2 linked regions of the Homo sapiens genome follow. The protein of the gene in region 1 interacts with the protein of each later gene in a biochemical or structural test. Each region holds a gene or a part of one and is shown on either strand. Other genes may lie near its edges. The genes, in order: LMX1B and NPHS2.

Region 1 (3,600 bases):
GGGTAGGGATTGGAGTCCATTCAGAGGTTCAGCTGTTTTGCTGGTCCCAGAGTGCAGCTGAGGCCTTCCTCTCAGTAGGAAGCACCCCAGATTTAGGCACACTGCCGTAGGTCGGCTTTGTGCTGTGCTCTGAACTAATATGATTCTAGTTCCGGGAGAGGGAGACGCCAGTCCGTTCAGTCACAGCCCAAGCATAGAGCAGCACAAATTGAATGGGGAAAATAGTTTGGGGTAGATGTGGCTGTGGGCTCTGGGCTGGCTAGAGGAGCCCCTCTGTAGGGTGCACCAGCCTCTAGCCCCCTCCCCACCACGCCCTGCACCCCTGGCCTCACTCTGCTTGCCTGATCCCGAGCTCTGGCAGTGCCACTTACACCCAGCTCAGCCACCAGCCTTTACGACAACACATGGGGGAAGGGGGCCCAGGAAACTAAAACCGGCCTCCAAATCATTTGCACAGCTTAAAAAAAAGAAAAAAACTTGTTAATATATTGAAAAGACTTATGAATCGCGTGTACATATTCTGCCCTCCCCCCACTCCCCATAATTATTTACGGAGCTTCTCTTTAAAAAAAAAAAGGAAAGGATAACCCCTGGTTCTTCAGGCACAGAATGGTAAAGTCACGAAATTTCAGCTGGATGTTGCCTTAGAGATGAGCGGCTCACCCCCTCATCTTACAAAACAATTAAACGTTAAGCATTTGCTACTGCTTTGTCCAAAGTATATTTGTTTTAAAAAGAAAAGGAAAGAGTCACCTAACAGCCAGCTTCTTCAGTGCAGTCCGGTGTGTTGAGAATGATTTTTGGCACAGGGCGAATCTCAGGTCCGAAGACCTCACTCAGTCTGGATCCTGTGGGGCTGAAGCCTGGGGTGGGGAGTGCATTATTCTAGCTGTGGACAGTTCATTCCTCCACCCTCATTCTATTTTTTCCAATAACGCCAATTAGGTATCTGCGTTAGGCCGGCCGGCAGGATGTGCTGGGGGTGGGGGGTGGGGGGTGGGGTGATTGTTATCAGGACAAATAGCCAGTGAGTCGTTTCACAGGGAGATGGAGCGCCGCTCCAGGCAGGCAGCAGCCACTGGAAAGGGATGTTCTTTGCACAATAAAAATTTTTTTATTCACATTTCTTTTTTTCTTTGAGAATTGCAGATGCATATTTATTTCATCTGTGCGTAAATGCTTTTCAGACAGGAATCCAAGCAAGCGGGCGCAGAAACGTGCCTTCTTGATATTGTCGAGTCTGTGCGTCAGCGGTATTGAGAAATTAACAATCCCCCCACCAAACACAACTTCTGAAAAATGTGTCCTCACCCCTGGCTGAGTTGCAGGGCTCCGTCCTTAAAAAGAGGTTGCCATTTTTAGTAAATGTCTCTTCTTCCTTTCGATTTGTTCTCAAAGATCCCAGACACCCAGAAGTGCCAAGTTGTCTTACGCACCACGGGGGTGATTAATTGACACTGGGGCACATTGAGCCGAATTTGATAAAAATCCTCTTGTACATCCTTGGCGGGCAGAGCAGAGCGCCGGCCGTGGAGTTTGGGCATTTTCACTCTTAACTCCAAAAGTCTCCTTTTTCCCCATGTGTGAGTTTTGGGGGCTCCTTCAAAAAAAAGAAAAAGCAGCCTTTTCGGACAGAAAACCAGTTAGGAAACGGAGAGGAAACGCAGCCTCCCCCAAATCAGAACACCTCTCACCGTCCTCCACCGGAGAACAAATGAAAAATAAGGCACTTTCCCCCCTCCCATGTTTTTATCTTGGCGGCTTGGCCGAATAGAATTATGTAACTCTCTTTTCTTGCCGTCTGTCGCTCGTCTGGAAAGGGTTTTTATCCTGAAGAGGTGGAGAATTCCTGGAGGAGGCTCCGGAAGGGGGGAGGGTCGGTGGGAGAGTCCAAAAATCTGTCACAAAATGGAGTCTAATCGCTTGTAAGACAGCTCCCAGGTTTGGCGACCCGAGACCCGCTGGGGTGCAAGCGGGCGCCTTTGTGCACGGCGAGACGCGGGGTTCCGGCCCGGGCCGCGCTCCTACCTCGGCGGCGGGGCCGCGGCGTCCTTCCGCCCGCAGGGCCTGCCCGGGCGGCCGAGCCTCTCGGCGACACAGACTTCAGGGCTCCGCCGGGCCCGCTGGGGGCCCTTTGGGCTCGCCTGTCCAGGTAGGATGTGCCTACGTTGGCAGCAGGGGAGCATCGAGGCTTTGATTGAGTTTCACAGAAAGCCCTCTTGAGTCCTGGGGTGAGTTTTTAAAAAATTTCCCCCAGCTGGCTGTGGCTCCAGTGGCCCAACCGCTCTGCCCTGCGCATTCCTTTCCTTGGAAGTGTTTACCCCGGGAAAGACCTTCTTGGGAGGCTCACCTCTCCCCCCACACTCCCCATCCAGCTCCCGCGTTCGGGTGTGGCCCAGGGGGAGAGCAGTCAGGCTCCGGCCTTCTCTGGCTACTTCTTCTGCCAGCCTGGAAGGCCTCCCATAGGCCCTCCTGCAGGGTGCCAGTCTCAAGCAGCACCCCTTCCCCAGTGTGTACCCCAACCAGCGAGCCCCCCTGCCCCAACCATCAAACTCATTCAGGGCTGCAGAGCGCCTGTCCTGGAAACTGCTTGGGAGGAGGAGCCAGGACTTTGCCTTACAAAAAGGCTTCTATGGTGCTGTCTCTGGGGGCTGAGGCCCAAAGGGCTCACCCTGGCAGCCCAAGTCTGGGGACCCTCTGGCCCTTTGGAGGGTACCTCTCCATTTAACCCCGGCACCTTGGCTGTGTGCAAGACGGTAAGCACAGGCCTTCCTGAGGCTGCAGTCCCCTGCTGCTGAACGGAGGCATTATTCACAGTGACTCCTGGCTCACCCTCGACTCCCCGGGCGCTGGGCTGGTGTGGCCTTATTTGTTTGCCCTATTTTTCTTGAGTGGGGGAAGCAGGCTGGGAGGATCTCCTCTGGGGTATGTGATTGGTGACTGTCAGCTCTTTCCTGCCCTGTCCATTGGAGCCAGGCTTAGAGACCCACGGCCGTGGCACCTACCTGATCCTCCTCTGTGAAATGGGGACTTATTCTGCTGGGGGCAAGTATTCTTATAAGGACTTGAGATAAGGTGCCCCAAAGGACCTGGCATCTTGCCTGGCTTGTTATTAATACTCTGGAAGTTATTGCTGTTACTCTTCTCACCATGAGCATGGCAGGGAATACCTTGTCTCCAAGGACACACACCACACTGCCAACAGGTTCTCTACCCAGGTTCCATGGTACACAGGGTTTACCATGAGCCTCTCCATGCAGGGAGGATGAGGAGCACCCTGGGGAAGCCATTGCCTTTCCCTTCGTAGGACACTGTAAAAGTCTTGCCTTCCTCAGCCATGAAAAGAGCTTTAGACTCGGAGTCAGACCTGAGTTCACCTCCCAGCCCCAAGTCTTAGCAGCTGTGTGATCTTCGCTAAGTGGTTGCCCATCTCTGAGCTGGGGCCTCATCAACAAACTGGGGGTGATGATGTGACTTTGCAGGGTGGTTGTGAGGATTACACAGGCACCTGGTGGAACTTTAATAAATATTCCATTCTCCGGGGGATCCATTATCCTCTCCTGCACCTCAAGAGAGGTGGAAAACCTGATTGTGTGGGTG
Region 2 (4,116 bases), on another chromosome or scaffold:
TTTTGGCTTCTCTACTTCCCAGCTACACGACTTGGGCATGTTACTTAATTTCTCAGAGCATGTTTCCTCATCTGTGATAAGAGGATGGTGAGAGATTAAATAACTCAGTAAAACACCCAGTGTGTGCCTGGCATATAGTAGGGGTTTCATAAATGGTGGCTTCCTTACTTGTCTACCCTACCAGTGTGATCTGCTGCCTCACAGTTACAAGCCCTCTAACCTCAGCATTGAACCCAGCAACCATTTACTGAACAGAGGTTTCTGACTGATGAAAGGGTATCATCAACTGGGCAAAACAGTATTAACGTGACCCATTTAAATTATACCCCAACTGCAGAAATCTTCCTTAAATGGTAGCTTTCAGTGATCCAGCATGTACTGCTTTGCTGGTAACTAGGAAATGTTAAAACTTCAGAGCCAGCAGGAAGCAATATAACACACTATTCCTTATTTAATTTCTTTTAACACCTGTCATCCCACTAAAGTGGTAATCATTTTTTTCTTCCACTCATTATAAAAAAGACTGGAGGTAGACAAAATTTTCCCAAGAGTTGTTTCTCCTGCAGAAGCAAAAGAGACACCTTTCTTTGCATTCCCTCCTTTGATCTAATTTTCCTCTCTCTTAGCTTGCAGCTGGAATTGAGTAAGTTTTTGTTCCAGACTTTGTGCAAAGTGCTTTGGATGCCTTTTCTCATTGTATCCTTACCACTACCCTCTGAGGCAGGTACTGTTATAGGAGAGATGGTTAAGGTCCTTCCTATGATCACATGGCTAGCAAGTGGTTGAGCTGTGATTTAAACTCAGGTGTGGCTCTTCCTCACTTGGCTCTGCTGCGACTGCTTTTCAGAAAGAATGATCATCTTCCCAGAAGTTTAAAATGCTTTTAGGTAAGACCGAGGGGTGGGGACGCTGGAAGAAGAATAAGCCTACAGCCTACAGCCACCAGCTCGTGCATGTCTTTACTTAAATTAGGTGCCCGTATGCCCCTCCATGGCCACAAAAACCAAGTCCATGGCTCCTTTGCCAAGTTGCTTCGTCCCCAACCTGTACCACACTCGCTCCCCAGTCCCATCCAAGGCTGGCCCCGAGACCAGTATATAGTGATATTTGTATTTCTTCTGATGTTCTTTGCTCACCATAGCAGGTTGCTGGGTTCCTAACTTACGCCCTTCCGTTCCTGGGAACCTGAGCATCCAGCAATCTGCTCTGGCTTCAGTGGGTCTCGTGGGGATGACCCTTTCCACCTTATCTGACGCCCCTTAGTTACCACCTGGAAAAGTAGCAGATAGTGGTGCTGAATCCGTACCTTCCTCGGGCCGCTCGCTCTCCAACAGCGCCACCACCTCGGTGCCCTCCTCGCCGGAGCCTCGGACCTCATCCACGTCCACCACCGTGGCGGCGGGCGCTCGGGGCTCCCCCGGGGTCCCCGCCCGTCCGGAGCCCGACGGCTCGGGCCCAGCCTCCTGGCGCCCGCGGCCTCCGCCGCTCCTCTCGGCCTTTGCCCTCTTGTTCTCCTTGTGCGGAGTCCTGCCGCCTCGCCCGCGGGACTCCCTGGAGGAGCTCCGCGCCCTCCTCTCCATCCTCAGAGCTGCCGGGCGGCTGGAGCAGCAGCGCGGGAGCGCTAGGGGCACGGGAGCGCAGTCCCTGTGGAGTCGCTGCGGGTCCGCGTGGCGTGCCCGGGGGACCCTAAAGACCGTCGGGTGGGGGCTGAGGGCGAGGGGCGGGACACCGGGGCCGCGGGCGGGGCGCACCCGGAACCCCGACAGCTGTGTCTTGGTGGAGCTGTGGACTGCGCCCGCCGACTCCCACGGCCGGGGCGGCGCTGAAGCAGAGAGAGGCCTGGGTGGGAGAGCCGGCCCCGGGCAGGGTGCGGGCGTTGAAAAGTGCGTGTCTGCAGGTGCCAACCCGGGCTGTGAAGACTCATCTCCTGGAGGGTTCCTAATGTCATGCTAGAGGGCTGACGGAGATACAGAAGCTCATCGCAAGCTCTGGTTTCTCTTCAAAACGAATACATCTTTTACCTTTTACTGCAGATTTTCGTGGAGAGGAACAGTTGTTAGTAACCTTTTTTGTCTGTTTGTTTTTAGGTCCTGCTTGGGCAGGGCCAAGTAAAAAAGAAAAAAGAAAAAAGAAAAAAACCACAAAAGGTCATCGAATTAGGGTCACTTTAAGGTAAAATCAGAAATTTCGCCTCATCCCCAACTTTCCTTCTTGGAGTCGTCTCAAGGATGCCTTTCTCTCCTCCCTACGTATTTCTTATTTTATATCCTGGCCCTAGTTATTCTACATATGCATTAACCCCTAATGATGTTGGCTGATTCCTCCTGGGAGTATTTACATTTTAAAGGGGATAAAAGAAAACTCTCTTTGCGATGTGTTTCGTCTCTGTTATTATTTAGGGTCTTTATTAATGCTTATGCCTGATGTTGATGATGCAATGCTTCTTGAAGAATCATAGGCAGGAAGGGGTCTGGTCTAACTTCTGTTTTTAGGAAGAGACACTTTGTCCCGTGCTTCCATGATGAAAGCAGGAGTTGGGCTTTTTCAGGGTTCATTGGCCAGGCTGGATCTAGCAACGATCTGGGGAGCTGCCTCACCCTCTTCTGAGGGACTTGAAACATTGAATAGGTTTATTTCTCTTTCACTTTCTGTTAATAATTTGTTTCTTACTGAAAGGGAGGTTGGTCAAGGTAACCCATCACCCAAGATTTATGATACTACTCAGATAGTTCAGATCACATGATGGCAGAAATAATGCTCACTGATTTTTTAAATTTTTTAAATATTTATTGAATTCACACAGCAATAGCTTTTTTTCTCTCCCAAAACCTTATTAAACACTGAGGACCTGAAGTAACTGAAGTGCGTCTGGAAAAACCATTCCACTACTTTCTTCTATATGTTCCAGGTTAGGCCACTGGGAGTAAAGTAAATAAAAGATGAGCAATCCAGTCACTTAAATAGATTTTTTACTGTCTAAACCTGATCATTGCATGGGCTAAGGAGGATAAATATTTCCTCGCAAGGGCCTGCCTCAGTTGATAGTTTCTGCCTACAACACTACAGTGAGAAAAATTCCAAAGCTGCGTTTGGCTCAAAGAGAGAAAGATATCATGATTATTTCATATTCCCCCAAATTAACATTTGCTATTAAACACAGCTAGCATCTTTATCATCCTTTAGAGATTTCCCTGTTAGAAAAAGTGACAAACTATTTGTAGCATTTATTGGTGTTTTTCCTCAGCCTGGTCCTGTTATAAATTAATTTCATCCGCATCCCTAGCTAGACTCTTATACTAAAATTGCACCTGTTTTTCATTCCAAGAATGGAGCAGGATATCTGGTCAAATGATATTCCCCAAACTGTACTGTCTTTCAATAAGAGAGAAATTCCTTGTAGGAGAAAAATCAATGAGAAAAGGCCCTACTGGGTGTTGGAGCCCATGCTGAGCACTTGTTCTCAGTCACCTTTGCTCAGTTTCCTTGGCTTCTTTGACCACTGACAAGTTACATTTCTATATCTATACATAACAGCAATATAAGCAGCTGCTTATAACACAAGTCTGCTGGGATTATGAGTGACAATGACAAAATCAGAGAAGCTGCATACCATTCCATGATAAAAAGGTCAATGCAGCATGGCTGGAAGGTGGAGGAGTTGGGGAAGGGAGTGCTGAGTTAGCAGCTAAGTCCAGCTGGCTGTCCTCATCTACTTTTACAAGGATGCTGCTGTTTTCTTTTAGATTCCTTTTTAATTGAAAGTGTTGCTCATCCCTTTGCTGAAAATATGATATGCACACATTCTGAAACTCTCAATACTTTACTCCTTGTTTGGATTTGTTAAGAAACTGACATCTGTGGGAACTGGGTTACTAGAAGAAAGGGAGGATCAATTAAAGCTGTTTACTTTTATGTTTCCAAGGTGAAAGATTATGAAAGAGTGCAAGGCTTTCTAAAGTATTACACTTATTCCCAGTTAGTGTTTTGAAGTATTATATCCATATGAATAAGTGAATGCATGAATACTGATTCATTTGGATTATTTAATGGAAAGGCTGGAATTGATTGGCACTACATGATGTTACAAATCCTGTTGTTTTAGAGCTGGAAACTATA

The links.
Region 2: the proteins of LMX1B (region 1) and NPHS2 form a complex in vitro, tested with the Homo sapiens proteins (one study listed by BioGRID).

Annotation. Positions count from the first base shown.
Region 1 is NC_000009.12:126,616,928-126,620,527, forward strand, and holds part of LMX1B (LIM homeobox transcription factor 1-beta), read left to right. Parts: intron 1-3,600. UniProt on the Homo sapiens protein: Transcription factor involved in the regulation of podocyte-expressed genes. Essential for the specification of dorsal limb fate at both the zeugopodal and autopodal levels.
Region 2 is NC_000001.11:179,574,285-179,578,400, forward strand, and holds the start of NPHS2 (podocin), read right to left. Parts: upstream 1,665-4,116; 5' UTR 1,581-1,664; coding exon 1,307-1,580; intron 1-1,306. UniProt on the Homo sapiens protein: Plays a role in the regulation of glomerular permeability, acting probably as a linker between the plasma membrane and the cytoskeleton.